Linked DNA regions of Homo sapiens: region 1 is linked to region 2. A link means that fine-mapping ties the variant in region 2 to the expression of a gene that starts in the linked region. Tissue or cell type: esophagus mucosa. Region 2 holds a variant in brackets; the other region holds the start of a gene. All regions are shown on one strand. Distances are from middle to middle.

The links. PIP is the estimated chance that this variant, and not a neighbour inherited with it, causes the effect.
Region 1: HS1BP3 starts here. The variant in region 2 is fine-mapped to the expression of HS1BP3 in esophagus mucosa (GTEx, PIP 0.92).

What each region holds. Positions count from the first base shown.
Region 1 is chr2:20,645,801-20,656,056 of GRCh38, forward strand. HS1BP3 (HCLS1 binding protein 3) reads right to left here and starts at 5,298. Exons shown (of 7, transcript NM_022460.4): 1 at 5,232-5,298. The coding sequence starts at 5,263. LOC105373466 (a long non-coding RNA gene) reads left to right here and starts at 5,482. Exons shown (of 2, transcript XR_001739320.2): 1 at 5,482-5,552; 2 at 6,175-6,400. RefSeq lists enhancers at 4,645-4,724, 4,745-4,894, 4,979-5,716 and a silencer at 4,975-5,564.
Region 2 is chr2:20,618,342-20,629,414 of GRCh38, forward strand. It overlaps HS1BP3 (HCLS1 binding protein 3), which reads right to left. Exons shown (of 7, transcript NM_022460.4): 5 at 6,391-6,551; 6 at 5,555-5,690; 7 at 1-904. The coding sequence ends at 646. Among named protein-coding and RNA genes, the nearest start is that of HS1BP3, 27 kb to the right of the region's middle. The variant G/C (reference allele first, on the strand shown) is at 4,385.

The DNA.
Region 1 (10,256 bases), 27 kb after region 2:
ACTCTGTGCAGAATGGGTGGGAGCAGCATCCTAGGGCCTCTACTCAGACCAAGGAACATGCCTGGGGCTGCAGGGACAGCAAGGGATTGAAATCCCAGCTGGAGACAGGCACCTCTCTTTGGCTAATGGGCAGGAGGGCTGCTACAGGCCCCCTGGGGGGGACACGGGACGAGCACTGGAGGCAGGACCCTTGTGACCCACCGTGGCCCAGAGAGGCACTGATAGGCCCGTCCCTCATCTGGGCAGTCGATGCTGCCCCTCGAGGTGTAGAGAGGATGCATCGGCAAAACATCACCGCTCTTGGAGATTTGTAAAATGCAATTCGAATATAATGAATTGTATGATGAGCAAAGAAGTGATGAGATGTTTTTCTTGAAGTGGAAAAAGTTATTAAATACATCCCTCATCCTACATAAGGTGAGACACAGACCTGTGCAGACTAACATCCCTCACGCAAACACCTCTGGCAGGACACGTGGGGCACCCTCTGAGCAGCTCTGACCATCGAGGTGAGACCTCCTGTGTGCTGGGCAGGACCCTGAAAACACGGGAGGAGCTTCTGGAGCTTAACCTGTGTCTGGGGCAAGGCCCTTCCCTCTCTGGAATTATACCCCAATCCATCAAATCCCCCTGCCCCAGCACTCCTCCCACACGGACCCCTCACATCCCACGCTAGGCCACGCTGTCACCAGCACAACGCTGCTGTCACCAACTGGTGAGGCCTACAGTGATGCGTCTCCTATGCCATGTATGACACCCAATGACTGAGTGCTGTACACACAAGGAATATCCTCCCGCGGCGTAGGGCACCCCAGGCAACCTGCCTTCAGGTGGTGAAAAGTGCAGCAAGGGCCGAATGGGCACTGGGAGGTGCACACGCACAGCCAGCCCTCTGCCAACGGCACCGAGTTCACGCAGTGTGCACGCGCGGCCTGGTGTCACCCACGGTGTCACTGCCACCAGTGTGGAGGAGGAAGGTGAGGCTGGATGCTGAGGGGAGACGCGCTGGGCTCTAGGGATGCACCTGTGTGAAGTCACTTCCGCCTCCTGCAACCCTGCGAAGGAGCTCTGCTACCCAGACCCACTTAAAATACAGGGAAACAGACCCCTAAAGGGAAAGTGCCTGCCCAGGTCTCACCCGGCATGAGGTGGAGCTGCGTTCAATCCCAGGCAGCTGCTCCAGAGCCCAGGTGGCCTCTTATGGGGCAGGCATGAGAAAGAAGCCAGGCATCATTTCTTTAGGATCATGATGAAAACGAGGCACAGGGGGGTGAAAGTGACAAGAAGGGCAGTGCCTGAGCTGCGGGGAGGTCCTCTCAGGGGTGGGAAAGGGATGGAGCAGACCCAGATGGGCACCTCCCACGATCCAGCTCCCTCACAGCACCCCACATCCAATGGTTCTCTGACCACGCCAGAACCCACAATCCATAACCCCACCCCTTTTCCAGGGTCCCATTCCATTGCTGGAATCCCTCTGCCTTAGGCCCAGCTCCCCTGACTTCTTACCCAGAGCTGAGCTGGCCTGGTCAAAGCCCACTTCTCCAGTTCTCTGCTTCCTTCACCCTGTGCCCAAGTGGCTCAACGTGACTGGGGACAGACATGGTGTAAACATGCAGCCTGGTCCCATTGAAATTCATGGCTGCAGACTTGAAGGCACAGCACCACACCAGGCTTGGCAACCCTACCTTGCCCTAGATGTGGGGTTCTCAAAGTGTGGTCCCTGGATCAGGATCAGCATCGCCTGGGAACTTGTAAGAAAGGCATGTTCGGGCCTAGGGTGGCCAGCCATCTTGTTTTCTTAGTAAGCCCTCCGACGAGTCTGATGCACCTGGGCCTACTCCATCACCCTCCCACTTCCCTGAACCCATAGGAAAACTTTCTCTACAGGGTCAGATAGCAAATATTTCAGGCTGTGTAGGGTATCTGGTCTCTGCTGCAGCTGCTACGGAGAGTACATAAACAAATGGGGGTGTGGTGGGCAGGATGTGCCCTAGACCAAGCTTCTCCAACTGTAATGTGCGTGCAACCCCCTGGGGATCCTGTTAATATGCAGATTCTGGTTCTGCAGGCCCCGGGGTGTGCCCTCACCATCTCTAGCAAATTCCCAAGTGATGTGGACACTGCTGTGTACTGCTCCAGAGACCATCGGAGAACATCCTAGGCTTCGCTGTCACATCTGCCCATCAGCCTGCAGCTGCTCCCTGATAGCTGCCCTCTCCTGGGACTGTAGACAAACTGGCTGGCTGCTCCTAAGGCCAACCTTCTACCAGGGCAGCGGCTCCGAGGCCCTCCCACCTACTGAAGGACATAGCTGCTGCAGCTCACCCCTCTTTTTCGCACCATCGATTTTCCTTCCTTACTGGCCCACGCTTATTAGCATGCAACCATGCTCTGACCACTCATGTAACAAAAGCTGTGCTTTGACCCGACATTCCCCTTGCTCCGTTTCCCTCCTGCCCTTTCCAGCAGAACTCCTCAACAGAGGGCCCCATATTCATGGGTTCCTCTCCTCCTGTTTGATCTTGAACCCTTTCCAGCCAGACTTTGGTCCTCATCATGCAACAAACTGCCCACGCCCAGGTCATCTGCGACCTCCATGTGGTTAAATCCAAAGGTGAATCCTCATTTCTCCTCTGGTCTGACTTGTCAGCAGCAGTGGGCACAGTCAGCCACTCCCCTCCTTCAAGCTCTGCCTTCACTGGTGGCTGGAGCACCCCCTCACTCTTGGTTCTTCTCTGCCCACCCTGGCCACTCTTGCTCAAACAGGAGGAGAGGAACTGCTTTGGATGGTTCCCCTTGATAGCATCCAGAGCACCCTCCTTCTTCCTCTCACTGTACCCCTCCCCAGGTGATCTCATCCAGGCTCCAGGCTTTAAATACCATTTCCGAGCCAATGGCTCCCCAACTCCCATCTTTAGCTCACTCTCCCCTCACAGCCAGCCTCCTTCCAGCTGCAGCTGCCTGACATCCCCACTGGGCTGTCAACGAGCTTCTCAAAACTCACCTGTCTACACAAATGCTGCTTCTACCTCTCCCCAAGCCTGCTAAAGGGCAGCCTCATTCTTCCAGCAGCTTAGGCTGAGAGACTTGCCGTTAGTCTTAACTTCTCTTCTTGTTCTCACACCCCATATCCAAGCATCAGCAAACCTGAAAGCTCAATCTTCAAAATATATCGAGAACCCAAACATTTCTCACCCTCACGGCCGCCATCACCCCGGGCCAAGCCACCACCGGCTCTACATGGAAACCTACAAGCCTGTCCTGAATGCTCAGCTCGGCCACTGCCCATGCTCAGCATAGCAGCCAAAGGATCTCTATAAACCAGAAGTTGGGCCCTATTGCACTTGAAATTAAATCTGATGGCCCCTCCACAGCCTTCTCGGCCTTTCCTGATCATCCTTCACTCCCAAGCTTGCCTCTTCACCGCATCACCTAACACTCTCCCTGGGCTCACTCCACTCCAGCATACCAGCCTCGGGACCCTGGCTCCTGCTGTCCTGTCCTCCCAGTACACACTTTTCCAAGATTTCTTTTTCATGGCTCTCTCCCTCATGGAGCTTGTCCGGGATCTGTCCAGGCGCCACTCCATCAGAAAGATGCCTCTTTACCACACCATAGAAAACAGCATGCATGCCTCCTACCACTCTGTTGCCCCCACTGTTTTGTTTTCCTTCATAGCATGTATCATCCCTGACATGTCGTAGATTTGCCCACTGGGCCTGTGCCCTCATTAAAGCTCTACGAGAGGGACTTGTTTGTCTCCTAGAACTAGGGCCAGTACCCGGTACAGAGAAGGCTCTCGATAAACACCTTCTGGCTGAATTCAAGCTTGAGTGCATGTGGCAATGACATGTGGGAGGAGATCGGGCTGGAAAGAGGAGCTGGGGTGCGACTGGGAAGGGCCGGCCTTGCTGCTGGGCTAAGGCGTTTGGACTCACCCTGCAGGCAAGATCCTTGGGTGTGCTGGTGCCCTCAGCAAGAAATGAGCCTGACTCATGTGGCCTTACCACCGCCAGCGCCCCCACATCTGTTAACAAGCCACGTCCAGGCTGTGCAGCGGGGCAGGGAGGGAAGCCACCCACCCCATCCCAAGCACCCAGCACCAAAGTCACACCCCATCCATCTGCACATGGCTGAGGGGCATATACTACTGACGTTGCTCATGCCTGCCAATCTGAAACCTCCAATTCACAGAAAAGGAAACTGAGGCTTGGTGAGAGGAGGTGACGTAAGTGGCAGTAGGGAAACCTCTTCTGCCCATGAAGATACAACTGTAACCACACTTGATCATGAAAGACCAAGCAGCCTCCGACATCAGGGTTTACAAAAGGAATCATACCTTTCTAGACCTGAAGTCACGGGGAATTCCTGATTACAACTGGAAGATCAACAGTTGGCTGGGTAACACGTTCATTTATGTCATAAATTGGCATCTTAGCCTAAGACTTTGTGTAGGGAGAGCAAGGGTGAAGTGTATGAAAATATTTGAAGTAAATCACTTTACAGCGTTTTAAAGGCGGAAAGAAGTAAAAGCACGTGCCTCCCAGCCTTGCCAGGATCCACCTTGGGCTGGGTCCTCCAGGTCTCGATCAGGGCCGACCCATTCTGCATCCTCCGCCTGGACCCCTCCAAGGCTTTTGCTGTAACTTGCGCTCTCCTGAGCTGCCTCGCAAGCAGCAACGACCTCTCCCTGGTCTCTCATCAAACTCATCCTCCCAGAAACCGGGTTCCTGCCCTGTACTGTGTTCCCATGGCAACCTGAGCTTACTACCCGCTGCTGGCATCACCCCCTCTCCGCTGCAGCCCCCTGCAGGGCGAGCTTGTCTGATTCGCCTCTGTCCCCAGTGCCCAGCACCGGGCCTGGGACTCAGGGAGCTCTGAAAGGATGGGGAACTAGATTTTCGGGCTCAAAAGAGAAGAACCCAAGGCGGTAGGAAAGGAGAGCAGAGTCCCCACTGCGCCCGCCTGCACTGAACCAGTCAGTCCCAGGGCTCCCGCTGTCCTTGGCTAGTTCTCTACCCTCCAGAGGGCCTCGGTTTCCTCATCTGTAAATCGGGGTCGCCACCTCTCCTGCAGGGCGGTGCAGGGGCCCAGCCCGGATAAGCCACCGAGGGCGCTGGGGAGACCTGCACCAGGTCCCTGGCCTAGGAGGCGGCGGCCTCCCCCCGCCTCTCCGCCCGGGCGCCCCGGACTGCGAGCTGTGCGGTGTGGGGCGCGGGGGTCTGGCTCACCTGGAGGTGACGAGCACCGCCGGGGACTGCATGACGGCGGCGGGGACTCCGGGCGGGGCGCGCAGTCACGGGACCCGGCAGTGCCCGCGTCACCGCGTCCCCGCCCTGCCTCCCGCTGCCCTGGCCTGCCCCCTGGTGGCAGCGGCCGCGCAGTTCGCGCCTGTGGCCAGAGGCGGGGCGGAAGCGCGGCTGGGCGGGTCCCGCACGGTCGCCGTCGGCCTGCGCTGCTCGGAGCTTCCGGAGCACCCAGGCTGAGCCGCGCCCGCCGCAACCACCTAGAAGAAGCCCAGCCTGGCCCTGGCACACGGTGAACCTTAATCGGTGTGTCTGTTTTGCGCTAAAGTTTAGCCGTTAGAGAGACGGGACTCTGCTGTTTCCGCCGCCAGTCCCCATTACAAAACCACTCCCCCTCTGCCCCAAGACCATTTCATTCAACCGATCGGTCAACAAATATTTACCAAGCTGGGGCTCTGTCCAGGCTTCGTGGGGTCTTCTTCAAGCTGCACAGTGAACGCCACGCAGCAGCCCAGTCCCCTTGAGCTTGCTGCCTCCAGCTAGCTCGCCTATCTGGTTCCTACTGCCTGCCCGCTCCATAAATGGCAGGCACTCTCCCGACAGGGGATCTTTAGAGAGGCAGCCTCTGCTGCTTGGCAGAGCCCTGGTGGAGGCCTCCCGGGGCCGGGCCTGCCTGGGATGGCTGCACTTGGGTCCCCAGCTGGAGCAGGGCAACGGGGTCCAGGAGCCAGTTCCCCTCAGAAGGGGAACGTACAGACATGCAGACCCTAACAGACCCACTCATTTTAGATTCACCTCTCCATGGGGTGAGGAACAGAGAGATCGTATCACCTGCCAACGTAGCCCAGGGAAAGAAAAGCTGAGTCTGCAAACAGGGCCAGCAGAAGGTGCAAACTGCTGCCCCTGTTCTGTTACTCCCTCCACCCAGAGCCCCAGTGACAAAAAGAAAGAGAAGCTGGGCTTAACTATACCAGAATTCACGGCAGGGCGATGTCAGCCATGTTTCCTGAGCCTATCAACCACCGCCACCAGCATCACCAACAATATCTACCAGTTTTTACAGATTTTAGTGAAGAAATCCTACAGTAAAAGATTTTGAAAAATGACTTTCCCCAATGTATCTCTTGAATAAATACGGACATTGATATGCCTTATTATTTGTCTCAGATTTGTTTATAGGCAAGATGAGCAATCATGAATGAAGTATGACAATGAATGAAAGTTCTGAGGGAGACCCTTGAAGGCTGCAGTGAAGAGCTGGGATGATGGCGGGAACCCCTGTCTGCTCTGCTGCTCATCGGCCTGTCCGTCTGCAGGGCCGTGTTCATGGCTGCAAATGGTCCTCCGTGTTTTGTTTAAATTGGCATGCCCTACTTTAGAGAAAGGGAGTTCAGGGTCTGGACAGAAAGCAGTATAGGCTTCAGCATTCCAGGAGTCTGAGTGTAGTGCCAGGCAGTCGAGCAGTCACCATTGCACTCACATTTATCCAACAGACAGAAACACAGTGAATAAGACACTTTAGATGCCTTCAGTGGACTTCTTTGCCCTCCTACATGGGGAGTGGGTGGGGGTCTGGAAAGGCTTTCTAAAGGAGCTGAAGTCCAAGGGAAAACCTGAAGAAATATGGATAGAATAGATTAGAAGGAATGTCACGTGCAAAGCCCTAGCGACAGGATAGGAACACCAGGGAACAGGGGGAAGAGGCCAGCAGGAGCCAGGGTGTGGACAGCCTAGTGCACCAAGGCCAGGGCTTTGCCTGATCCTGAGGCCAACACAGCGCCATCAGAGGGTCAGGGACATAGGAGTGGCTGGGCCAGCTAGGGCGTGGGCAGGGTTTTGGAGCATGTTGAAGGTATGAAGATGAGCTGGACTGCAGAACAATCCAGACAAGAGACAATGGTCCCATGAACTAGGGTGATGGCCACCCAGGTGGAGAAGAGGGGACGGGTAAGAGGGCCTTAGGAGAAGGAGTTGGTCAAGACTTGGGAATCCAATGGGTGTGGGCGGGAAGAGATAAGATACCACTATGGTTTGGCTCTTGTGAGTGGCTGGACATTGGTATCATTCTCTGTGGCAGGGCACCTGGAGAAGGAGCATATTTTTGGTAGGATGATGGGTTCTGTTTCAGACAGGCAGTGTTTGAAGGGCTGGACCTATTGATGCGATTGGGTTTATGGCCCTGGGCCTCAGGAAGCCGACCTGGGCTGGAGACTGACATAGGAGTCATGGGTAAAAAGGAGGCTGTTGAGCCTGAGAGTTGGGGTGAGCCCACCAAGGATGGTCTACAATCCAGAGATATGCAGCGGTGTTGGGGGGCTGCAGAGAAGGGGACTCTCCATCATTGTGGGAGCTGGTAGCATGTCTGTCACCAATGCCTTGTAAGCAAATGAGAGGGCCTCACCTGTGCCCCTGGGGTTGTGAAGTGTGCACCTCAGGAAGACTCGGCCCACCTGTCAAGAATGCAACTGGTTTCCCATGAAAGAACGACCCCATTCCCAACAGCAATCCCATTTTCTGCCTCTGTGGGTCCCACGTGCCCCTCTATGGCTCCAGCGCGTAATTGTATACAATGCATGGAATGTGGGATCTAAATCTGATATTTTCTGCTTCCTGTTTAATTCAAGGAGCCCCTTCCATGGCTGAAGCTGCGGTAACACAAACCACATTGCAAAGGATTTTCTATTTCTCTCTTTCTCACTGCCCTGGGAGGAACACTCCAGGCCTCAGTTTCCACCCAGGAAGTCACTGGGCCTCAGGACACTGTGGTCACTGAGAGACACCCGCAGCCTGCAGGGGGTGCTCTGAACTCTGGCTGAGCCATGCACCAACGTTTCCCATGGTGGCTCGGGTCTTCTGGGACCTTATAATTTGTCTCTGTTCCCTAATGTGATACTTTAGAGCTCCAGGGTCTGGGCACATCCACATGGAGCAGGGCCACCACCTTGCTTGTCACTCAGCAAACACTCATAGGTACAGCTCCAGGCCTGTTATCTCCCCAGGCCTGGGGGCTACAGAGCCTTATCCTGTGGGGCTCACAGCCCACTGCAGGGGCTCACAGGCCACTCTAGGACAGCTGGAGATTTCAACAAGGATGCACGCCTAGGGTGCTATGGTGCACAGAGGAGGGCACATAACTAACTCAGCCTAGGGTTGGGCATACAAAGAATTCTGCCAGGAGGAGGTGATGGCAGACCTGGGTTGTAAAAAGTAGGTATTATTTTTTTGAGACTTGATTTTCTCACTGGTGAAATGCACGTAACAGAAACCTTTAAATCATAACATTGCTTGAATTACATGAGGTAAAATGAGACTGAAACAAGATGAAATGTATGGCAGGCATTGGTGATGAGCTAACCGGAAGCCATTCACAACCCCCTTCTTCCTGGTTTTTATTACCATAGAGGCTGGAGAAGTAAAACACATGTCCCATTTCAGTTACAAGGGGCCATGTGACATAACTGACCACATATACTTAAGTCCCTGTGGAGGATTTATCTTGCTAGGAGAAAACTCTTCGCTCCTTCCTTGTCTTCTACCTGGGAAGGGGATACAGTGTTGGAGACACAGCAGCCATCATGGGAGCAGGAGGCACAGACATGAGTTTGGAGTCTACCATGTTAGGGATGAACAAGCCTGGGGAGCTGATGGCATATGAGCTTGCATACACGCCCTGGACTTTTTCTACAAAGTTCTCCTTGCATAAATGCCTAAATCACTCTAAGTGGGGGTTTTCTGCAGTGGATTTCCTGTTGGTGTAGTTGTAAAGTACTTACATAATGCCTGACATAAAAACTGCTCCATAGGGGATGCAGGGATGACTGAGGAGGAGGAAGAAAAGAGGTAAAATGTGTACTAGGAAGGCAGCTTGTCTTTTTTTTTTTTTTTTTTTTTTTTTGAGACAGGGTCTCATTCTGTCGCAGTGGCATGATCACAGCTCACTGTAGCCTCAACCTCCTTGGGCTTAGGTGATCCTCCCACCTCAGCCTCCCAAGTAGCTGGGATCACAGGTGTGTGCCACCATGCCCAGCTAATTTTTGTGTTTTTTGTAGAGACAGGGTTTCCCTATGTTGCCCAGACTGGCCTTGAACTCCTGGGCTCGAGCAATCTGCCCTGCTGAGCCTCCCAAAGTGCTAGGATTACAGGTGTGAGCCACCATGCTCAGCCTAGTACGTCTTGATAGAACCAGAGCGTATCTGAGGAGCTGGTGAGAAGAATATGTGGAAGGATTGCTGGGAGAGGAGGCAGCAGAGGGCAAGAGGAGCCTGTGTTCCCGCAGCATAGAGGGCCTTGTGCGCTATGCAAAGGAGCTCACATCTTATCCTGAAGAAGGAGGGAGTGGGCTCACAGAACAAAGGGAAAAGAGTGTTTCAGGAAGAGACTGGGGTGTGATCAGCAATGCCAAACACTGCTGAACATCCAGGAAGATAAGGAGGTGTTCAAGAAAAACAAACAAAAAAACCCCACAGAACTGAACAGTAGTTAAAGTGGTGAAAGCAGATTTTATTTGGGACTACTGCAATAGGGGTAAGAGACCCCAGTATAGAACTAGGCTAAATTCCGAATGCAGCATGAGAAAGTAGGAATTTATAGCCAAGGAACAGGGTGGGAGTGGTGGCTGGAACATTACTAAGACGAGTATGGGGGGACTCTGGCTATGCCGACCTAACAGGATTCTTGCTGAAGATGGGCCAGGATGGTCAGACATCACCTGGGGATGGTGGAGGAGGGGGAACCCAGTTGGATATCGAGGGTGATCAGATAGGCAGGGTGGGAGGATGTTGGTAACCTGACTTAGCCACGTTCTTCCTAAAACTGGATTTTACAAGGAAGTGCATGCATAGGTCTAAGAGAAGGTTCAGGAGCTCAAAGCTCAGTTTGGTCAAGAAGAGAATCTTTGAAGAGAGAAAAGTGTTCTCTGGCCTCGAGGAGGGCAGTGTCCCAGTGGGTGGAGGAGGGGACAGGAGGTGGGAAGGGGAGAAGGGAGTAGGGCCCCCTCTTCCAGAGGGGGAC
Region 2 (11,073 bases):
ACACTCCAGACAGCCGATCTCCCACTCAGTATTCCTCTCCTGGGAGACCCACCCAGACCCTGCAGGCCCCTGGCAGCCACGAGGAGCAGAGGCCCTGGAGTAATTTGGCTTGGGGACGTCCCCACCCCAGGCCCAGGCCAGTCAGTCACCCAGGCTACAGCTTAGGGTAGGGGAAGGGGAGGATACCGGTCACTCCTTCTTACTATGCGAACAGAGGCAGAGGAGGGATAGAGGCCCAGCCCCAGTTTGGGTCTGTGCTGGGGCTGGCAGAACCCGTGGGCATGAAGCTTCCCTGCCCCATGTGACACCTCGCTACGGCCCCACATGTCTTGCTTCATCCTTGGGGCTGGGCTTCTGGTTGGCAAGGCATCCCCACACCCTCCCTCCCCTTCATGTCCACGGGGAATAAGACACATTGGGCTCTGGCTCCTAGGGTGAGAGCCGCTCCCGCAGCCCGCAGGCTTCTACTTTGGCCCCACAGCCCCGGAGAAAATGGAACCATGCAGTTCTGGGTGCTGTGACCCAGGCTTCTGCCTGGCCTCCCCTGGGGGTGGGGAGGTTCTGACCCTGCAGGGCCCAGTCCCTTCCCTTCACACCGATGTCCCCACAGACAGGCCTGCTGGGCCAGGGGCCAGCATGGAAGGGTCAGAAGAGGCTGGGGGCGGCCTGGGCTGGTGTATCGTGGTCCTGGATGTACTGCAAGATGTCCATCTCGTCCATGGCTTGGATCTGCTCCTGCGGCTTCTGCTGCCCAGCCACAGCTTCAGCCGGGCCCGCTTTGGGGGGAACAGCTGGTTTTCTGGGTATCACCGGCTTAGCTGCCACTGGTGGCTTGGGCTTAAGCTGGGGCTTGGGTTTGGGCTCAGCTCCCAGGTTCAGAATCTGGTCCAAGTCCTCTTCAACTCTAGGGAACCACAGGGAGGAACCCTGAGCATAACACTGCCACCCCGTGACAGGAACAAGACCCCAGGCAATGCCAGTGCCCACACGGGGCTGGGCAGCGGCAGGGAGCCCAGCCTCGGCCAGGTCAAGGCCCCGCCCTGCTCTGCCCCATTCCACTCTGGCCCCTCCACCCATCCTGCCCAGAGGAGACACGAAGGCCAGGGCTCTCCTTCCCTCCCACCCACAGCAAAGCAGGCACAGGGCAGGCCCCACGCAGCCTCCTGAGAGTTGCTCTTCAGGTGACCCCACTTGACACACGCTGCCTTCTGTAGGGGGCTTTCCCTCCAATCCCTTCAGAAATAACCACCAGCTACTATGTACAGAGTTCCCGCTCTGTACAGCACTTCAGACACGTTATCATATCTTATCCTCAAAACGCCACTCTGGGGAGGCATGACTGTGCTTCCATCACGCAGATGAGGACGCTGGAGTCCCAGGAGGCCGAGTGACCTCGAGGGGATGGTATGTGACAGTGCCTTTGTTGGAAGGAACAGGACATCGGCCCTTAGAAGCTGAGCCCTCATCCAAAGCAAGTTCAGCCAGAGAAAGAATAACCAGGGGCGCTGAGCCATGGTGGTACAGGCTTGGCCCGCCCACAGTGCCCCGCTGTGGGCCACACGGGTGCCAGACGGAACCCAGTGAGAGCTGAGGATGGCCTCGGCCAGGGCCCACCAAGACTCTGTCATGACCCCAGACCTCTAATCTCCCACTGGTGGGTGGGCAAAAAGCCCTGGCAGTGTTACGGTCACTCAGGACCATCCCTGGGTACTGAGGGCAAGAAACAGGCCAGGCCACTGATTCTCCAGAACTTGATTTCTGGAGACCAGATGCACAGTGGAAGACTCATTCAATCCATTCCACCCACTCAGCTCTGTGCTGAACACCCGTGATGGCCAGACATTTCCACATTCATTAACCCATTCAATAATCTCCAAACACTGTGTGGTCGCAGAGATTAGCCCCGTTTTACAGCTGAGAATACTGAGGTGCAGAGAGGCAAAGGGCCTTGCCCTGAGACCCACAGCTAGTGTGAGGATGAACAGGACTTGGCCTGCATGTGGCTGGTTCTCTGGGGTGTGTTCCCCTGGCTGGGGCACCTAGACTCCAGTGTCACGGCGAGGTTTTCCCTTGTGCTAACGGGCATCTCTACGTCTATCGCTCAGCCATGCTGGAATCAGGTGAGTGAAGGCAGAAGACCTGTAGCACCCACTTGGTCTCTACAAGCTTCGGCTTCCTCATCTACAAGCAGGAGTAACAGTGTCACTGGCACTGCTGCACGGAACTGTACACAGAAGCACAGCACTGCAGGAGGAGAACTGGCTTCCGTTCCTCACCCTGCAACTCCTCCATCAGGCAGCCTCAGGCCACTCCTCCTCCCTGGTCCTCAGTCTCTTCTATAAAGTGGGATTGTACTTGCTCTACCATCCTCACAGGGATTCTTACAAGGATCAAATAAGACAACACAAGGAAAGTAGTTTCCAAATGTACAGGAAGGCTGTATGTACTGATGTCTACTGACAGCCACAGGGGCTGAGCAAGTGGGCATAAGACACAGAAAAGCAGTGCCTCCACCTACAATGAGGGACACCCCCCAGCCCAGTCAGACAGGGGCCACATAATTGCAAAGGCCTGGAAAGAAGGTGTTGAAGTCCAGAGAAGGGAGTGAGCCCTTGGGCCAGAGCAGGCTGGGAAGGCCTCCTGGGAAGGTGGGTCTTTTCAGAAGGGTGAGCCTGGCATGAATAGGGGAGAGAATTCTGAAGAAGGGAGCAGACAGCAGAGGTCTGGAGGTGGGAATGAGAATGAACAGGAAGAACCAGGCAGGCTCATGAGCAGCGGCTTCTTGCCCTGGGGCAGGGCCGGGCAGGGGTGGGGATAGAGAGGCGATACCTCTGATCAGGACAACTCCTGGCACTACCAGAGAGCCTGTGTGAGTATGGAGGTGTCCAGCACAGCACCCCCAGGGGTGGATGCCTGCCTGGAGCCAGCTGTGGAAGGAGCTCCGGACACCCTGCCTGCTTCCTGGCTCAACCTCCTGTGATGGGGCACAAACCCCAGAGAGAGAATTCAGAGTCTGTTTGGATGGCAGAGAAATGAATAAAAGGTGTCCTTCTTGAACAAACCCAGAGGGACTGGCCCAAGCCGGGCCTTCATAGACAGACCAGCTGTCTTGGGGTAGAGGTGATTTCAGGAGGTGTCACTCATGGCCAGTCTGCTCCTGGCCACCTCAGGTCAGATGTTCCGGAGCTCCCTCCAAGTGGCAGCCCTTCCTTGACTCCCCCAGGGCAGGTGCCAGCTCCACTGGCATGATGCAGCCTCCATTGAAGGCTGAGGGTACCTGGGAAAAGCTCAAAGGGACTGAATTATCCTCAAATAGGGGCCCTTTGGAAAATAAAGCAGCCGCTAGAGGCTTATGTCAGATTTCAGGATTAGCCTGCTTGGCAAAGCAGTGACTCTTTGGAACTAATCAGCAGCTGGATTTGCTCCCAGGTGGGTGGTGTACACGGGTGGTCAGCCACGGTGGGAGGCAGCATAGCTGCTCTTGGGACACAGGAGGCTGCAAGGCACCCCTTTTCCAAGCACCCTATTTCTGAGTCATGACTAGGACTAGCTCTCACTAGCGCAAGGTCCAGCTCTTTTCTCCTCCAGGCCCAGCTGGTGTGAGGTCAACCAGTGGGGGGTAAGGGAGCTCTAAGACCCTGGCCCCATTCCTTCTCCCTGGGTTCCTGCGGAAGACAAGACTCACCTAAACATCTAGACTAGAGGCCCTGCCCTGGTGTGGCTGCACAGCCAGAAGGAACAAAGCCTTCTTAGCCTCGACCCGCTCAGTGTACACCCCACGCGGCCTCAGGGTGGCTGAGGCTAGTGACAGAATGAACGAAGGGGTGAAAGCATGAATGAATGAATGGCTATCAGAACATTCTTTATTATGAGGAAGTCCAACTACTCCCTGGATAGTCACAGGGCAGACACAAAGAATGAATGTGGTTCCTGCTCTCAAGAAGCTAATCCCAGTGTTACGGCTCTTTTTGAATTTGTCTGAATTTAAAAAAAAGAAAAGCAGTTAATCCTTTCATTAGCAGATGTCTGCTAAAGTGAAGGTGGGGGTGCGGGACCCACACTTTTTGAGCAGGGACTCCCCAAGCGCTCTGCGGGATGCTAAGGGGCACCACAGAGTGGGGGGCCCAGGGATGAATGAGAACGTGAAGTGCCATGTGGTGCTGGCCCGCGCACTACGAGCCCTGCTTTTTGTGGCATTTCCCCAATTCATCAGCCACAGAGCCCCTTTGAAGATAGCCTTTGACCACCCCACTGTACCACGTTCTGCAGAACACAGGTTGGGAAGTAACGGATTTAGAATAAACTAGGCCAGAAAGGTCCCACGAGAGCCACCCCACTGGGACACATGGACTCCTAGACATGCTCGGCCTGGCCCTGCTGCTCC[G/C]CAGGCAGACTCTAGTATTTCATTTCCCTGTGCCTCGGTTTCCCTCTAATAAAATAACAATCCTGGTTTCTTCCAGCCCGCTGGGATGTCAGGAGCGAGGACACAGGATGAGAGTGAACAGATGCCAGGGGCCTTGGGGACATGTAAATACCAGAAGCCGTCACGGTGACTCAGGCTTGGCGGGCACTTGCAGGGCTGTCTAATAGCCCGAGGCTGCTAATGAGGGGTACAGATGACAGCCTCCAGGGCCTGCATGCCTTGGTGTCACATAAGCCGTTCCTGGAAAGAGGCGGCCTGGCTTCCTCTGAATCCCAGGCACAGTCCTGTGTCCTGGAGCATGGAGTGGGAGCTGGAGACACGCACAACACTGAGTCTGCTGAGAATGTGGCCAGTGGAGGTAAAGGCCTGGGGAGAACTGGGGGGCTGGGTGGGGAGGCAGATCACCCAGCCAAGTGCTCAGACAGTCCCTGATGAAGTGGAGAGGCCAGGCCAGGGGCAGAGCAGGGGTCTTAGCCAGGTGGCGTCCCACACTTGATTTCTTATAATATGGAGAAAATAGCATCCACCTTAGGGGGCTGTCGTGAAGATTACATAAGAGAGCGTGTAAGGAGTCTGGCTTACTGCGTACACAGCAAGGACTCAGGAAATAGGAGCTGTCACCGGCACAGGTTCTGCCAATTGACCTCCATGTGACAGCTGAGGCCTCATTCTCCCTTCCTTCTGTGAAAGCTGCCGACCGGGCCCTCCGGCAGAGAGGCCATCACCAAGACATCTGCACTTTGCCCCCTCGCTGGGTGGGCTGCATGCTGCCATGAGTCCGTTTAATTTGTTCCCAAACTTGCTTATGCCAGTTATACCTGCTCTTGCAATTATATAATTTAATTATTCTTTACATAAACTGTTAAAATATGATTGTGAAAAGAAAGACTGGTTGTGCACACAAAGTTCTCTCTTTCTGGAACTAGCTGAGCAGCCCTGGGCTGCGGATCCTCCCCCTCAGCCCCCTTCACCGCCTCTCACCCAATGTGCACCCACAGGCTTCTACTTTTCACAGGCCTGGGGTCCTCCCCTCAGAGGAGGCTGGGGCTGAGACTGGGCAATGAGCCGGGCCCTTGGCTCTGTCCAGAACACTCTCAGAGCTGGCCAAGCGCCGCTGGGGACAGGTGGTACCTGAACAGTTCCTTGGAGGCGTCCCTGTGGCTGAGGCTGGGTGTGGGCCCTCCACTCTCACAGGCGGCTGGCAGCAGGAGGGAGTCACCCAGGGGGATGGCCCCGCCGAGGTCAGGATCATCAAATAGCTTCAGGGCTGTGGGAAGGCAGCAGCAGGGGGGTCAGAGGAAGCCTCTAGGCTGGGATGCCATGGCTGCTCTCTCTCTGCCCCACCCCAGGAAGTCTTCTGGGCAGTCCTACAGGAATTGATGCCTCTGCTCAACCTGTCATAACTGGTGCTGCTTTGTAACTGTCAGGCAATGACCTGTCTCCCCAGGGGCCCCCGGGGCCCTCGGGATAGGGACTAGGGACAGGGACTAGGTCTCACTCCTCAGCATGTTCTTGGGCCTGGCCCTCAGTGAGGGCTCACCAAGTATGGGCTGAATTAGTGGGTGGCATCAATTCCCCTCACCGGAGGACGACCTGGGCATGTGAGGAAAGGGACCAAGGGATGAGTGGAGATGTCCCAAGGCCGCTCGGTTTTCCCTCTGCCAACTCTGCACAGAGCCCTCCAGCAGAGTCCATGCAGGCGACACAGAGTCCCATTAAATCCAAACCTACAGTCACACATGTGCCCTAGGCAGGCCCTATCGCTTACCACACAAACAGTGCCTGGAAGCCCAGGGCCCACATCTGCCCACAGATGTCATGGAAGCACAAAGCTGAGTCTATATCACATCTAAACAGGACAGGGGAGATATATGGGTCCTATTCACGCCGGGTGAGTCCAGACCCTGCCTGGTGATGGGGCTGGGCACCGAGAGGACACCAGGAGCAGACCATGGGGCTCTACTTACGGTCCACGGATGACACGTCCTCCGAGGGGTCCTGTGGAGACAGCTTCCTGCCCGGGCCAAAGAGCCCCTCATCAGGGTCCACCTCCTCGTCAAAGATGGTGAGCCGGGGCGAGGGCTTGGCTTTCACGGCCACTTTGGGATGTTTCTTGGGCTTCTTGGAGCTGGAGAATCACAGACAAAGCACAAGGTGAGGATTTCCCACAAGTGTCCAGGTGGTCCGGTCAGACCGACACAGGCGCTGGGCCCTGCAGTGGAGGGGCTGGATGCCATGGGCCAGAAAAGACCAGGCCAGAGGGACCAGGGAAGTCCTGGAGGGGGCCACCCAGAGCAGTCCAGGCAGGTGGAGCTGAAGTCTTTCTGAAATCTCTAACAGATGGTCACACGGCCAAGGGAAGGACAGGTCCTCCATCCCAGGGGAGAAAAGCAGGCCAGCGAAGGTGGTTGAGAAGCAGGTTTCCCCAATGACAGAGTGGTAAGGCCCCCGCTACTGTGGGCAGCTGTGCCCTGTGTTCAAGAAATGACCACTGTCAGGAGGAGCAGGCGGCTGCCAGGACCGGGCACCAGCTGCCAGACAACCCCAGCTCTTAGACGCCTTCAGGCCTTGAGTCTGCCATGCGGTCACAGGCCAGAGATCACACTCCCATTCGGAAGGTAGAGACAGCTGCCTGGTCTCAGGGTCTCAGCACTTGGGGGCCAGGCTCAGAGAACCACACTCCACAGCCACTCAGAAATGGGGATGGACCTGGTCTTGAGCCACAAACCTCAGGGCTAGGACTCAGGAGGGCAGAAAGCAGCTTTGGTAAGTGCCTTATTGTTTCCTTTGCATGGTAAAACCACCATTGTTCTAGTTAACACTTGGGTTCTGTGGAGCAGCCCCCCTCTTTCAGGAAGCCTCTCTGGGACTTGCCCACCTCCCCGGCTCCGACTCTGCCACCCCAGGTCCCATTACAGTGCACTTGCCGACTGGCTGAGGAGGTCCTGCTCTGGGCCAGACCCTGCTGTAAGAAACCAGGACGGGGCAGGATGGAAGCTTCTGGGGTGTAGGAGTACTTTAGTTTTGATCCAGGCGGTAGTTACGGGCTGGATAAGTAAACACGCATGGAGCTGAATGCTCAGGATCTGTGTACGTCACTGTAAGTGATACCGCCAGTAAGTAAACACACTTGATTTTACTTTAATAATTACTTTAACAGGCATTCAATCCCTGCTGATGATGTCTATTAGCCATTTTAAGGTTCCTGAAAATAATGAGAATATGCTCTTTACTGGAAACTGAAATTCCGTGTGCCTGTCCGCCTGGCGGGCAGTTCCACTGGACTGAGGTCACTATGTGAGGTCACCATCTGAGCTCATGTTGGTAACACGCTGCGGCAAAACTGCACCGAGAGGCTGGCCTACACAATGATACAGATTAACCAATGGCAGATAAAAATAGCAGAATGGCCCTGGGTGCTGGAGGGGCAGGTCCCCGCAAGGTGACCATTCCCACAGTCTGGAGTCTGAGGTCTGGCAGAATCCCAGGCACCCAGCCGAGGCGAGGAGAAACTATGAAAGCCAGGAAGGCTCCCTGCTGGAAGGTTCCCTGCTGGAAGGCTGCAGGACAGAGCATCCTCTGAGCTCAGAGCCCAGTCCCAGGGGAAGGATCTCTGCAGGGCTCGTTTGTTGGATGAGGAAACAGTGGTCCAGAGAAGCTGAGTGTCTGCCCAAGGCCACACAGCAGGGAAGGGACAGGCAGGCTGGGTCTAGATTGAGGATGGTCATACTCATGGTCCTATCCTCTTGTCCCCTCCAAATGTCCCATGAGGAAGGTGATATAGGATGGCGCAGGGATAACAGGATTGATCCTGCTGTTCTCTGGGGAGAAAGTGGCATGTTTCAAGGGTAGTGATGGGGAGCAGAGACGCAGTGGCAGGGACTGCTCCAAGAAGGCCCATCTGCCTGGTCCTGTGCTTTCTCCACCCAGCTCAGGCCATGAGGGACCTCCTCTGCTGTGCACCACCCTCAGGCCCTGCTTGTGGTGCTGGAGGTGAGGTGGAGGGAGCCTCGATTCTCCACCCTAAGGGCAAGTGCTTTCCAGAAATCTTCAGCTTCTGCTCCTCTGAGACCTGGAGGAGCCAGGGCTCGCCTGCTCTTACTCAGACATTCTCCCCTTTATTCTTACCAATCAGGCAGAGCCAGCTCGGCTCTCATGACTCCTAGGAAGTGGGTACCAAACAAGGGCCATGGCCTCCTGGGGCAGACAGCAAAGCTGACCCCAGCCAAGACCCACTGAGTCGGAAACCCCAAGCAGGCCCAGGAGGCTGTGTTCAGTCTCCTGTGGAATTCCACGGTCAGCCAGGCTCGCAGCCACTGTTCTGCCCGATGCTTCTCTCCCCTTCATTCCCCATCTCTGCCGCCCTTTGCGTGGCCCTTGCTCCTGGCCCCAGCAGGCACTGCGGTGGGGAAGGGTGGAGAGCCACCCCGGCCCCTACCCAGGTGGCAGCTCTCAGGGAGGGCAGGTCTGAGGCTGCTCTGCAGCCTCCCCCAGCAGCAGCTCCATGCCACACCCCACACTGTCTGCTCAGAAACAAGCAGGCCCTCCCTGGCTCCTGGGGATTGAACTTGCATGTAACCAGCCACGGGCCCCTCGGGGCAGGGGAGCAAGAGGCTTTGCATTGACCAGAAATCAGAGGGCGCAGAGAGGGAAGCGAGCCATCTGAGGAACAAGGGAAGCGAGAGAGAACAGGCGCGAGGAGGTCTCTCTGGAGAAGCCGTGGTGCCCCTTCCTACGCCTGCACCTGGTCTGGACAGCACACAAGAGGCCTAACTTTCCTTCCATGTGAGTTTTCTCCTCCAACTGGATCATGTCCTTGTTTTTCTCCCTAGAGACATGTTTGCCCTTTTGTTGTCCTGAACTGAAATAAAGTGGATCTACAGCACACGCGGGCGGCTCCAGCAGGCATGGTCTGTACCCTACCCCCACCCACCCATGCTGCCTGGGCTGCCTTCTCTACCTCCCCAACTCTCTAGACCCATCTTCAGGGGAATCAAGGAAGAAGCAGGAAATATGGAGTTTTGGTGCCTAAAAGCCCCAGGGTCCTATCCTGAGCGGCCCAAAACTTTCAGCCTCTGGGGGCTTAGTAATGTGCCTGGTCCATAACAGATGCCTTGATAAACTCTGGATGAGAGGATGCGCGATGGATGGAGGGGAGGAGGGATGGACAGGTGGAGGACAGGTAGGCAGGGAGCAGGGTGCCAGCACATCTCCATCTCAGGATTCTGTTAATCCCCAAGGCGGGAGGGGCAGGGAGGGAAGAGGGATAGGCTCCCAACCCCAGTCTCAGACAGCGCCCTATGTGCGAAAGCCCCTCCTCCGAAGATCTCCTGGCCGACTCCACTGGGCTTGCCACCAGGCCCTCAGCCACTCTATGAGCAACTCATTCCTTCCCTCGTGGGCACCTTTGATGGCGAGCACTCACTGAGAACCTCCCACCTGCAAGAACCTGTGCTGGGGACGAGGGAACAAAGATGAGGACGAGCCGCCGCTGTCCCCAGAAGCTCATGGCAGAGCAGGGTCACATAGAAACTGATCATTATGGCCGAGTGAGGTGGCTTATGCCTGTAATCCCAGCACTTTCGGAGGCTGAGGTGGGTGAATTTAAGAATAAAATATGAAAAGTGCTTTAGTTTAAAGCAAAAAGTTTACGGGAGGCCAGGAGTTTGAGACCAGCCTGGCAAAGATGATGAAATCCCATCTCTACTAAAAATACAAAAATTAGCGTAGCATGGTGGTGCATGCCTGTAATCCCAGCTACTCGGGAGGCTGAGGCATAAGAATCGCTTGAACCCCAGGGATGTAGGTTGCAGTGAGCTCACATCACACCACTGCACTCCAGCCTGGGTGACAAAGTGAGACTTTGTCTCAAAAAAAAAAAAAGGAAACTGTTCATTAGCACACAGGGTGTTCCGCTCTGTCACGGCAGAGCACAGAGGACAGAGCCAACCAAGCCTGAGGGCTCAGGGAGGACTTCTTGGAGGAGGTGATGTGGAGACAGGAAGTGAACTTGGTGGAATGGAGTTAAATAGCATCTTGGGTACAGGACCTGAGAGTCACACTGTGAGGGTCTGCAGCGGGCGTGACTAGGACATAACTGGGAACCCAGATTCCTCTTGGTGAAAGGGGACCCCTTAGGTTTGCAGCAGACGTAGTGCCATGAGGGAACAGGCTGAGAGTCAGTTCTTTCCAGGGAAGCTTTGCTCATGGTCCATAGAAGAAATGACCAGAGCCTGGACTAGGAGAGCAGCGGTGGTGCGAGGGGAAGACAGGCTAGGGGGAACTTCAGAAGGCAAACGTGCTTATACATCTGGACAGTTAAGGTGATCGGCTGACAGAAGGGAATTGTCTAAGGTGATGACAGGTTTCTGATCTCAGTGAGGGGGTCAGTAATTCCATGACAGGTGCGTCACTCAGTCTCTGAGCCATTTCTTCACCCTTCTCCTAGCACAAACACCTCAGGGTTGTCATGAACATGGAGTCGGGTCAGGTCGCACACATGGGCTATCACTCGGGGGCCCCCTCAATCCTCTCCTCCCTGGTCCTCCTCCTCCTCCATTCCTATATCAGCATCCACCCAGCTGTCTGCAGGCGCAGGGCCTGGCTCTGCAGTGCCCGCCCTCCAGCCCGCCCTCTGCACTGACAGGAGA